3 separate regions of the Homo sapiens genome follow, and regions 2 and 3 are each linked to region 1. Evidence: fine-mapped expression QTL. A gene starts in region 1. Each other region holds a variant in brackets. All regions are shown on one strand. Distances are from middle to middle.

Region 1 (4,272 bases):
CCAACTGCATTCATACTGCACCATCTCTGACTCTCCACTGGCGGGAAAACCCAGCCAGCTTACACTCCACGCACAGCATGCGCCTCAGATACCCAGCTGGGATTAGCGAGCAGGACCACGTGTGAATGGCACGGCAAATTCTCCAGAATACAGGGTTCCCTGGATTCTAAATTTTTCTCTTGCCTTTCTAATCAAGAACAGAGAGAGAGAGAGAACACACACCCTGTCCAATAACTCATTGTTCAAGCACTGTAGTTCACCCAGGTAAAATTCAGTGCAGCCGGGAGGGGGGAAGCCTGGGAGAGCAACTGCAGTCTCTCCCGCTGAAGTTCAGGACTCAAAAATCAACACTTCCCAGCAGTGGCTGCCTGCCCAGGATGCCCCTCCCTCCTAAAATAGACACAATTTGTAGTTCCTTGTAAAATGGTTGTATCAGGACTTCTGATTTACTCAATCAGGGCTTGCGGTTTATTTTTAGCAAATAAGAGAGGCCTCCTATGAGAAAGAGCAGCCACACTTATAGCGCTAACAGGTAGAAACTTTACTGGCCCTCTATAAATCAATTCAACACCCTGGTCTCCAGGCATTTGCCAAAAGCTAATGGGCGGCAATTATGAAACCATCGCCAGGAGTTTCCAGCAGGGCTGAGAGAGAGTTTTAAGTCTGCAGGCCCTTTCAAGGGTAAAATAGGAAATCATTTCATGAAGCAGCAATTTTACCCAGAACCCAGCTAGAAGAGATGTGATCCTAGCTTAAATTAAAGTGACTAAGAAACAGGTGGGGTGAACAAGGAGGTGTGGTACGCAAGTCATCTTCTCCCACTTTCCTTTGGAATCCAAAGGAACTCAACATTGGAAACACAGCTGGATACGTTAATAAAGATCCCAGCTGGGCAGTCTAGGGAATTGGGGGTGTACAGGCCAGTGCTCCCTCTCCTCCACCTTGAAACCCTGCCTGTTTTCACACAGCAATTGAGGATGCGCCCTTGGACAGCGACCTTGGGGTCTGGAGCAGCCATCTATCCCAGGAGAAGGAGGAAGGCTCGGCAGGGGAGGCTCTGGCCAGCCCACCAGGGCCTGTCCAGTTTCGTGGGGAGGGGAACTGCCGCACATGCCGCACACAAAAGGCGGAGGCTTTGACCAACATGCTGGGTGAGGGCTTGGAGGACCCAAAGGTGGCTCTTTCTTTGAAGACACACAGCAGCAATCTTAACCCTTAGAAGTGTCACAGAGCCTCATATGAGCTTTCAAGTAAGCTGTGGAAGTCGCGATTCCCAGGTAAGGGACGGGAAACTCCGGATGTCCTGCGAGCCCACACCCCAGATGGCACCGCCTGAAACCAGAATCCAGGTCCTCCACCCCCGATTGTTTCTCCTTCCTCTCATCTTACCAAGTCATGTGGGCGCCCCCACCCCCATCCCCGAGGCCTCAGTGCGACGGTGACCGCTCAGTCTTGGGGCCTGAGCTGCTGGAGACACACTGGAGCACAGCGGGGCCCAGCCCTCGGGCCTGTCTGAGGCTTTCCTCCGCCGTGACCACCGCCTCTCCAGGTGTACCAGCGTTGGTTAGGAACAGTAGGTGCTACTGGTCACAGTCACCAGATACTTCCCACGAGCCTCATCTTTATCCCCGACTCTGGCCGCCGGCGGGAAGCGGCGTGTCCGAGCGCACACCCCGTGGAGACTGACCCTAGGTCTGTTACTCCAAAGTCCCTGGTCTCTCCTTCCCCTTTCTCGCGGCCGCCTGCCTGGCACGGGACCCTGAGGCCGGAGCGGAGACCGCAAAACCCCTTGGGGCCGGCACCCCCTGCCTCCGCCTTGGCGCAGACGTGCCCATCTCTGGGACGGCCCCGAGCGCACGCAGCCGGCGGGCGACCCTCCTCCCAGAGACCTGCACGCTGCCCCCGGCTCCCAGCGTACCGCCACCCTCAACCCGACACACCCAAGTCCGCCCCAGCCACGCGCCAAGACGCTCACCTCCCGCAGCAGGCGCTCCAGGTGCGGCTCGGCCCAGGCGTCCAGGGCGCCTGGCGGCCCCGCGCGCCGCAGCAGCTCCCGCTCCTCCTCGAGCGCCGCCACCCGGCCCTGCAGCGCGGCCGCCTGGACACCCAGCAGCAGGCAGGCAGCCGCCGAGCCCACGGAGAGCAGCAGGCACAGCGCGCTCACCGCCCGGGACCCGGCCGTCGTCGCCGAGCGCCCTCCGCCGCCGCCGCCCGCCGCATTGCCCTTCCCCGCGTCGCCGCCGCCACCGGCGCGCTCGCCTGGGCCCATGGCGCGTTCGTCGCGCGTGGACTCTCCGAGGGGGCGGTGCTGCTGGGGCAGAGGCTGGGTGCGAGAGGAGCAGGCGGGACAGCCCGAGGCACGAGGTCCGCCGGGCGCGGGGGTTAGCCTCCGGGTAGCAGCGGATCGCCGCGCACGCCCCCTTCGCCGCAGCCAGCTCCTCCACAGCGGCCACTTTGGGCAGTTTCCTCTATGCAAATAGACCCTGCCAGAAAAGGAGCAGGGACCCACCCAGGGGAGGAGCGGCCGGGCTGGCCCCGCGCGGCGAGGGGGCGGGGGCGAGGAAGGAGCGAGCTCCTCGGAGCCACCCGTCGGCGCCGGGCTGATCCCACGCGCAGCGCGCACCTCTGCCCTCACCTAGCCCGGGCGCCGGCACCCGCCCCCGCACGCACCTCTGAGGCTTCCCCAGCCCAAGCCCGCACTGTGGACCCCAGAGGTCGGAGGGGAGCCCGGCGACACCGCGCCCCTTCTGCAGCCCACCCCTGGCTGGAGCACCCACCACTCGTGCCTTAGCACATTCCTCTAAACTTGTGAATTACCTTTCTGACACTTGTAAAAGTTCAAAACTTCAAATCCTGCAAAAAACTGAGTGGGTCTGTCCTCGGTGGTGGATTAGCGCCGCTTCGTGGCGGAAAGCGACCTCTGCGCACTCACATTTAGAGAGGCAGGGTCGAGATTGCGCCAAACAGAAATACGCCCCTTAGAATCTTCTCACGAGTTCTTAGCTGCCGGACTTCGGTGCGGGAAACAAAAATGGTAAGACTGTTTCTGGCCTGGAGAGGGCTTTTGAGAAAACTGAGACTATAACGAATGGGAAAGATTCAGAAAATGAACTTCAAGTCTTGTTCAACTGATGACTTAATTCTGTATTAGACGCACAACTTGGCCAAAAATTATGATCTAGTATGCACCACACTTAACCTGTACTGCGATTCTGCTGCAAATTTAAATCACAGGGCTGAGGCAAGAAGGCTGTGGCGTACAGCCTGGGTCCAGAGAACAGAATGAGTGGCACTAACAAGTCTTGGCAGGAAAGGGAAGAACTGCTGGAAGTCAGGCTGGGTTCAGATTCCTACCAGGCATATTCATGTCCTAAATGGGTCCCAAGTAACTCTTTCGCTAACTCCTGTAATACCTAAATGAAACAACAAACCAGCAGTTCAGATCTTTGTGATTTGAGTAACCCCCCAACCATTTTTTTTTAAGAAAAATAACGTTATATCCATCTTCCCTCTCACTCTGGATATCTTCTGGTTGTCTCATTTCTGTGGATACTCACCTTTTAGAACTGTTGAGTGCCTCTGGCTAACATGTTCCATCTCCTTCCCTTAATTCAGAGGGGAACCCCTGAGATGGCCGGGGGTTATGGTTGATAGACTTGGCTCTGTGCTAAAGTCTGGTGTATGCCCAATAGAATGAAAAGTTGGCCTCATTCTGAAAAGAGGCCAACACCCTCTTACAAGTCAGCACTACATTTCTTACAGGCACATAAACTGCACACCACCTACCTATGTTAATGTTACTGCATGTATTGTTTGCCATGTTCCTGAAGCTTCTGTGTATTGAAAAAGCCAAGCTCACTGGCCCCTGGGCCTCTGCCCTTGCCTACCACCTCACTACCTGCATTCCTGCTCTCAGATCGTTAAACGGCAAGCCCCTCCTCATCCTCCAGGTCAAGGTCCTCAACCTCACTGCTTCTAAAAGATCTTCCCAGACTGCCCAATTTAAGGTGGCCCACAAGATTAATCAGGGAATTGGGGCGGCTGAATTAAGATGGAAATACTGTCTGCAACTCATTCTAAAAGGCGAAAAAGAAAATGACTTACTTGTGTCCATTAGGGTCCTGGAAGAATAGATGGCATCCTCAGAGAGGGTGACTCAAGACAGCCTGAATGTAGAGCCACTTCACAAAGTGGAGATCAGAGGGGCCAGCAGGGGAGGCCGAAGCAGCACTCTGCGGGTATTGACAGTGGGAGGCCATTACCATCCCTAAC
Region 2 (4,272 bases), 200 kb before region 1:
TGCTGGCACAGCTAGATATCCACATGCAAAAGAATGAAAGTGGACCCCTGCCTCACACCATATGTAGAAATTAACTCCAGGTGGATCAGACTTACATGTAAGACTTAAAACTATCAAACTCTTAGAAGAAAACATAGGTGTAAATCTTCATGATCTTGGTATTAGGCAGTAGTGTGTTAATATGACACCGAAAGCATAAGCAACCAAAGGAGCAATAGATAAACTGGATTTCAAAACAAATAAACTTTTGTGCCTTAAAACAGGGGCCCCAACCCCTGGGCTGTGGACCAGTTTGTGGCCTGTTAGGAACCGGGCCTCACAGCAGGAGGTGAGTGGCAGGACAGTGAGCATTACCGCCTGAGCTCCACCTTCTGTCAGATCAGCAGCGGCATCAGATTCTCATAGGAGCATGAACCCTATTGTGAACTATGCATGCAAGGCATCCAGGCTGTGCACTCCTTATGAGAATCTAATGCCTCCAAAACCATCATCCTTCCACCCTTGTCTGTGGAAAAATTGTTTTCCACGAAACCAGTCCATGGCACCAAAAAGGTTGGAGACCACTGCTTTAAAAGATACCGTGAAGAAAAGGAAAAAGATAAGCCATGGAATGGCAGAAAATATTTGCAAATCATATATCCGATAAGGGACCTGTAACTATAATACGTAAAGGATTCTTACAAGTCAACAATAAAAAGACAAATAGGCAGAGGATGTCAATGGACCTTTCTCCAAAGAAGATAAACAAATAGTTACTAAGCACATGAAGACATAGGAAACGTCATTAGACAGCAGGGAAATGCAAATTAAAGCCACGATAAAGTACCACTTCACTCCCACTAGGATGGCCAGAATAAAAGAGTCAGACAGTCAAAAATGTTGGTGAGGATGGGGGGAAACTGGAACCCTCATCCATAGCTGGTGGGAATGTAAAAAATGCTGCAGCAGCTTTGGAAGACAGTCTGGCAGGTGCTCAAATGGCTTCACACAGACTGCCATACGATCTAGTAATTCTGCTCCTATTTACCCAAGAGAAATGAAACATCTGTCCATACAAACACTTGTACGCCCATGTTCACAGCAACATTATTAAAAATGGCCCAAAAGTCCAAGTATCCAAATGTCCACCAGCTGATCAATGGATAAATAAAATGTGGTATATTCATACAATGAAACATTATTTGAGACTAAAAGGAATGAAGTACTGACACCGGGATGAACATGCAGGAATCTTGAAAACATTACGCTAAGTGAAAGAAGCCAGACACAGAAAGTCACGTATTATATGATCCTATTTATATGAAATGTCTGGAATAGGGAAATCTGTAGAGACAGAAAGTAGATTAGTGGTTGCTGCGGGCTGGGGGCTTTGAGGGGAAATGATGGGTGGCTAGTAATAGGAGTGTCTGCTATTTTTTTTTTTTTTTTTTGGTTGATGAATTGTTCCAAAATTTATTGTGGTGTTGGTTGCACTACTCTGTGAGTATAATAAAAACCACTGACTTCTGCACTTTACATGGGTAAACTGTATAGTGAGTTATATCCTAAGATTGTTATAAAGCAAAAGCAATCTGAATGGCTGAGCCCGCACGGACGCAGCATCACAATCTGCCCTGGGTGTCCTCGGAGCACACTCACCTTATTTATATCTTTCAAACAATGCACCTACTGCATTCCCATCTTTCTTCTAAAATGTTAAAGAAACTGCATCTACAAGACACATCTTCAAACAGAAACACAAAAACCTTACAACGAAACAGGGCTGCACAGAAGGCCACGCCACCTCCAGAATTGCCCTGGCTAACTGTCAGGACAGCAGCAATGTTTTATCCACACAGAAGCACAAAGGGACAGAAACTGTGTTCTCTGCCTTCTTACTGAGACACGAGGCCACAGGAAGTCCACTCAGGATGGCAGGGTCCAGCGGACAATGGTCCCTGCTGCCACCCTCAGCCTAAATTCGGCTCCCAAATGTATCACGCTACCCCATGGCCGGCTCAGCTTTTCACCACTTGCAAATGTAATAGTGAGACCCCTCCTACCAATAGCCACATTGTTACCTGAAGATTGACAGTTCAACAGAAAATGCCACATTAGAAGAGGAGGCCTCAGGAAGAACAAGACCCAACGTGGCCAAGCAAGAAAAGGAGAAAGGAGACCTAAGAGTGTGCCAGCGCTGAAGAGAAACACCTTGGAGGTGTCTGACAGCAGTACCACTGTTAGTGCAACTCCTCACCAGTACAGAACGCCCTCCCTCACTGGGTGCTCAAAACCACCTGCTCAGCCATCTGCATTTTGCAGAGAGACTCAGGCAGGACAAGAGCCCAAGGACCCACAGCGGGTGCCTGGCAGAAAAGCAGCTCAAGCTCAGGCCTTCGAACTCCCAACCGTGCATTGTTGCCGAAGTAAACGATTTGTTGCATGCA[T/C]ATAAAACATCTGGCTCGAGAGATGGCCCTGGCAGGGAGCATTAGCCTTAAATGGAATAGTTTTCAGCCTTAAAAAGGAAGGAAATTCTGACACATGCGACAGCACGGATGGACCTTGAGGATGTTACGCTAAATGAAAGAAGCCACAAAGAAGAAGTCACGGAAGGACAAATGCTGGATGAGCCAAGCCAGGGTACTCCAAGTCATAAAGATGGGAAGTAAATGGTGGGTGCCAGGGCTGTGGGGAGGAGGAATGGGGAGTTATGGCTTAATGGGTGCAGAGTTTTCGTTCTGCAAGATGTAAACAGTTCTGATGATGGTTGCACAACAACGTGAATATACTTAATGCCACTGAACTGTACACTTAAAAATGGTTAAGATGGTACATTTTATGTTATGTATGTTTTACTACAATAAAAAAATTTCCCTGGCACCATTCAGATCATGTGAGACCAGCTCCCAATGCATGTGGAAGGAAATTGATAAAAATCATCAATCAAGACTCTCTTCCCTCTTTTCCTTTTTTTTTTTTTTCCAGACAGGGTCTTGCTGTGTCACCCAGGCGCAATCTCTGCTCACTGCAACCTCCACCTCCCGGGCTCAAGCGATTTTTCTGCCTCAGCCTCCCAAGTAACTGGGACTACAGGTGTGCACCACCACGCCTGGCTAATTTTTGTACAGATGGGGTTTCACCATGTTGTCCAGGCTGGTTTCAAACTCCTAACCTCAAGTAATCCACCTGCTTTGGCCTCCCAAAGTGCTGGGATTATAGGTGTGAGCTACCAAGCCTGGCTTCTTCCCTCTTTTCAACTGATTTTCCAAGGGTGCCAAGGAGTGGGGAGGACCCACCCCAACCCTGCCCACCAGGTGCCCTGACAGAAGGATGGGACATAACCCCTTGGTCCCAAGGAAGCAGGTGCTCAGTGTGGCCACAGACTATCAAACCTGGAGCGAAAGACCTGGGAGGGCAGGAGGAAGGGAAGCTTCAGGGAGGAAGCAGAGGCAGGACAGGCAAGGAGGAGGCCCAGGGCTCCAGCACAGGCAGAGCATACAGTCACTATCTGCACCTGTCCTGCCCTGCAGGCCTGGAGCCTCCTGAGGGCAGGTCCGGTACAGGTTTAACCCATGCCCTGATGCTCAGTCAGCCCAGAGGCTGGCACAGAACAGTGCCTGCCACACACTGGGTGAGTCAACCCTGAGCCCTCAACTCGGAGCCACTCCCAGCTGGAGAACACCTGCTAGGCTGCATAGGGCCTGCAGCCCCACCCCAGGAATGCAGAGGCAGCCCCACCAGCCCTCTCTCAGCTCACTCCCTGAAGATCTCCAAGGAAGACAACTGTATTGACAGCACGGGGTACTTTTCCTGCTCCAAGAAATTAACTCATTTCAAAAGCCACGATGTTCCGGCCTCAACATGGTGTTCACAGCTAAACTGTGTGGCCTGAAGGTTCACATCTTTGGGTAAACTGAAAATCATCCTTAGCTAGCATTTGGCTGCAAGTTCAGCCTCCTGGTTCCTGAGTCCACCCTGACACGCAGAGGGGACTGCTGATGGTCTGACTCCCATCTGCTACACATGGGGAAACTGAGGCCCAGAGAGATGGTATGCCTCCCCAGGGTCACAAGTGGGACATAGCAGGGCTAGAATTACAAGGCCCTGGGTCTCGGGCAAGGGCTGAGGGGAATTAGTTGAGCTAATTAGTCATGCTAAGCAGCATTCGGCTCTCAGCTCCAAACGTCCAGGCTTGGTTCCGGCCCCGGCTGTCCTCCGAGAGTCTCTCCCCGGCGGGCAGGCGCTCTGGGCATTCGGCTCTCAGCTCCAAACGTCCAGGCTTGGTTCCGGCCC
Region 3 (4,174 bases), 230 kb before region 1:
GGCCTCCCCAGAAGCAGAAGCCACTATGCTTCCCGTACAGACTGTGAAAACGCGAGCCAATTAAACCCTCTTTTCTTTAGGTTGGGTGTGGTGGCTCATGCCTGTAATCCTAGCACTTTGGGAGGCCGAGGCAGATGGATTGCCTGAGCTCAGGAGTTCGAAACCAGCCTGGGCAATACGGTGAAACCCCGTCTCTAGTAAAAATACAAAAAATTAGTTGGGCATGGTGGTGTGAGCCTGTGGTCCCAGCTACTCGGGAGGCTGAAGCAGGAGAATCGCTTGAAACCGGGAGGCGGAGGTTGCAGTGAGTGGAGATCATAGCACCGTACTCCAGCCTGGGAGACAGGTGAGACTTTGTCTCAAAAAAAAAAAAAAATGGATTTTTAAAATGCAGAATAGTAACTGTTTACATAGCATTTACATCATATTAGGCATTATAAGTAATCTAGAGATGACTTAAAGCATATGGAGGATGTGTATTGGTTATATGCAAATACTACACATTTTACCAGGAATTCAAGGCTGCAGTGAGCTAGGATCACACCACTGCTCTCCAGTCTGGGCCACAAAGAACCTCAAATAAAATAAGATAAATAAAATAAATAAACAAGCATTTTATATCAAGGACTTGAGCAGTCCAGATTTGGGTATCTGCAGGGGGGTCCTGGAGCCAATCCCCCATGGATATTAAGGCACAACGCTATACAGATATGGAAACATTAAGTCATACATCTAAAATAGATGCAGTTTTCCAGCCTGGGTTACATAGTATATTAGTCTGTTCTCGCATTGCTATAAAGAACTACCGAAGGCTGAGTAATTTATAAAGAAAAGAGGTTTGTTTTTATTTTTTTGGAGACAGAGTCTTGCTCTGTTGCCCAGGCTGGAGTGCAGTGGTGCGATCTCGGCTCACTGCAACCGCCGCCTCCTGGGTTCAAACAATTCTCCTGCCTCAGCCTCCCGAGTAGCTGGGACCACAGGCTCACGCCGCCAAGGATGTTAGCCAGAATGGTCTCCATCTCCTGACCTCATGATCCGCCCGCCTCGGCCTCCCAAAGTGCTGGGAATACAGGCTTGTTTGTATTTTTTTCTGAATTTTTTTTGATCTGTGTTTAGCTGAATCCACAGATGCAGAGCTGCAGGTTCAGAGGGCTGACTGCGTATTGCGAAATGATTGACAGCACTGAGCTAGTGAACATGTTCACCAACTTGTGCAGTGATTATACCACTTGAATGTTGAGTGAGCAAATATCTTACCTATTAAAATTAATACAGTAAAATAAAAAGACTGAGGCAGATTTCTATTTCCTGATATGGGATGATTTCCAAGATTTCTTGAAGTATAAAACGCAAGGTGCTGAGCACGCTGCAGCATGGATGAAGCTTGAAATGGTGCTCAGTGACAGACGCAGGCACAGAAGACCCCAGGCTTAGGGCCCCACTCTAAGAAATGTCCAGAATAGGCAAAGCCACAGAGACGGGAAGCAGAGGAGTGGCCGCCTGGGGTTGCGGAGGGGAGGAGGACAGCCAATGGGTACAGGACTTCTTTTAGGGTGACGATCATGGTCTAAAGTTGATTGTGATGCTGGCTGCACAATTCTGAACACACTGAAAACCACGAGTGGTGCACTTTAAACAGCTGGAGTCTGCGGTCTGTGAACTGTATATCAATAAAGCTGTTATGAAAAAAGGCAAGGCGCAGCACAGGGGGTAAAGCATTCCACAGCTTGTTTAAAAGAGGGGGCATTTGTTTGAGGTATGTCTGGGGAGAACCAGAAGACACCAGGATCGACTGCCTCAGGAGAGGGGCCTGAGCCCTGGAGGCAGGGGTGGGAGGAGGCATTCTGCCTCAGGAATGCATTCCTTCTTCCCAGAAAGAGAAAGGCAGGGTGCAAAGGGTTAAGGGAGAGAAGGCGAGACACAGGAAAAAAAAGGCAAAGGAAAGCAAAAGTCAGCGCCTCCCCAGTCCCCACATTAAAGTAGCCATTGCCGCCGGAGCAGAGCCGGCTTGGCTGCCTGAGGAGGAGGCACGCGCCAAACCCAGCAGAGTGATGCCTGGGCAGGAG[T/A]TACGCACCCTCCCCCGGCCGCCTGGCACCGAGATTGGCTATGCAGCAGGAGGAGATGCCAGGGCTCCGAGCCTCAGGAACCCTGGTGCTGGTCCCCACTGCAACCCCCTGGGGTCTGCGCACTGAGCCTCTCCAACCCAGCACACCCGTGCCCACCTCTCCAGATAATTAGAGATGCTGCATAAAAAAAAGTCTAACACAAAGCCTGACGCTCGTGGATGCTCAACAAAAGTTAGGCTGGCCTTTTCCAAACAGTGCTTCGAGTCAAATGCAAGTATTGTCTAAAGTCTGCAGAAGAAAGGAAAATGAACGGAGCTAAAGATGTACTTCCCTTTACTCGATGCTGTTCTCCTGTTCCCTTCTGTTCTTTCAGTATCTAATTGCATTAAGCACGGGTTCCCTCCCTGGTGACCTGGGGCTTCCCAGCAGGAAGTGACCTTGAGGGCGCCTGCCCAGTGACCTGCTTTCTGAAGTGCCGGGTAGTGCATCCCCTCAGATGGTGACCTCCTTCCCTTCTCACAGGCTTCTGGTCTGTCCACGCCCTCAGGAGAATGCCTTTTCTGTGAGCCGGCGGAAGTGCCTCTGCCCCCTGGGGTCGGGGGGTCAGCTTGGCTGCAGGGCTGGGGCCGCACAGCCTCGACTCAGAGAACTCACAATGAAATCAGGCCGGGCATGCAGGCTCTTGCTGGGAACAGCACACTGGGGAACTGTGCGCCTTTGAGGTTTTAACCGTCCGCTGGGGAAACAAGTGAGTTCTTTGAAGGAAAACATATTTTGGAATCTGCTCTGAATGATACCAAGAGGCAGGCGGCCTCCAGGGGCCAGCCTTTGACTCTAGGCTGATGGGTATCACCCTTGCTTTCACATGTTTGTCCCAAATATAAAGGAATTTACCCATCAGCTGAAATTTTCAGTTGTTATTTTGCTTAATGTCAGGTCAGATTTAAAATGTGTGTATGTGTGTGTGTGTGTGTGTATGTACGTGTATGTGTGTGTGTACGTGTATGTATGTGTGTATGTGTATGTGTGTGTGTATGTGTGTGTGTATGTGTGTATGTGTGTTTATGTGTATGTGTGTGTATGTCTAATGTGTATGTGTATGTATATGTGTGTGCATGTGTACGTGTGTGTGTATGTGTGTCTAATGTGTGTGTATGTGTATGTGTGTATGTGTATGTATGTGTGTGTATGTATATGTGTGTATGTGTATGTGTATATATGTGTGTATGCGTGTGTGTATATGTATGTGTGTGTATGTGTGTGTATGCGTATGTGTATGTGTATGTATGTCTAATGTATGTGTATTGTGTGTATGTGTATGTACGTGTGTAGGTCTAATGTGTGTGTATGTGTATGTGTACGTGTGTACGTCTAATGTGTGTGTATGTGTATGTGTGTATGTCTAATGTGTATGTGTATGTATGTGTATGTGTGTGCATGTGTACGTGTGTATGTGTGTCTAATGTGTGTATGTGTGTATGTGTATGTGTGTGTATGTATATGTGTGTATATGTGTGTATGCGTGTGCGTATATGTATGTATGTATGTGTGTGTATGTGTATGTGTATGTATGTCTAATGTGTGTATTGTGTGTATGTGTATGTGTACGTGTGTATGTCTAATGTGTGTATGTGTATGTGTATGTGTGTATGTGTATGTGTGTGTATGTGTATGTGTGTATGTGTGTATATGTATGCGTATGTGTATGTGCGTATGCGTATATATGTGTGTGTATGCGTGTATATGTGTGTATGTGTGTATGTATGTCTAGTGTGTGTATGTGTGTGTATGTGTACGTGTGTATGTCTAATGTGTATGTGTATGTGTGTGTATGTGTATGTGTGTATGCGTGTATGTATGTGTGTATGTGTCTAGTGTGTGTGTGTATGTGTACGTGTGTATGTGTCTAATGTGTATGTGTATGTGTGTGTATGTATGTGTATGTGTGTATGTGTGTATGTGTATGTGTGTATGTGTATCTGTGTGTGTATCTGTGTGTGTGTATGTGTGTGTATGTGTATGTGTGTAAACATGATATACCCATGTGTGATTTGTATATAAGCCCCCACTCATATAAAATCTGCACCTATATATTAAATGCCTGTTTA

Which allele goes with the higher level. Alleles are on the strand shown, and positions count from the first base shown. SD is a standard deviation of normalised expression in the study named.
For the expression in cerebellum of the gene that starts at base 2,465 in region 1, C is the high allele of the variant in region 2 and T is the other (moderate effect, 0.49 SD a copy in GTEx).
As copies of A replace T in region 3, the expression in putamen of the gene that starts at base 2,465 in region 1 goes up (small effect, 0.28 SD a copy in GTEx).

What was found. PIP is the estimated chance that this variant, and not a neighbour inherited with it, causes the effect.
Region 2: its variant is the best candidate, but not a certain one, in a credible set for the expression of COL23A1 in cerebellum (GTEx, PIP 0.75).
Region 3: its variant is the best candidate, but not a certain one, in a credible set for the expression of COL23A1 in putamen (GTEx, PIP 0.81).

The regions. Positions count from the first base shown.
Region 1 is chr5:178,587,929-178,592,200 of GRCh38, forward strand. COL23A1 (collagen type XXIII alpha 1 chain) reads right to left here and starts at 2,465. Exons shown (of 29, transcript NM_173465.4): 1 at 1,976-2,465. The coding sequence starts at 2,269. RefSeq lists an enhancer at 911-1,811 and a silencer at 2,467-2,666.
Region 2 is chr5:178,390,707-178,394,978 of GRCh38, forward strand. All of the region lies in intron 2 of COL23A1 (collagen type XXIII alpha 1 chain), which reads right to left. Among named protein-coding and RNA genes, the nearest start is that of PHYKPL, 160 kb to the left of the region's middle. The variant T/C (reference allele first, on the strand shown) is at 2,427.
Region 3 is chr5:178,354,696-178,358,869 of GRCh38, forward strand. The region is part of intron 2 of COL23A1 (collagen type XXIII alpha 1 chain); the gene reads right to left. Among named protein-coding and RNA genes, the nearest start is that of PHYKPL, 120 kb to the left of the region's middle. The variant T/A (reference allele first, on the strand shown) is at 2,067.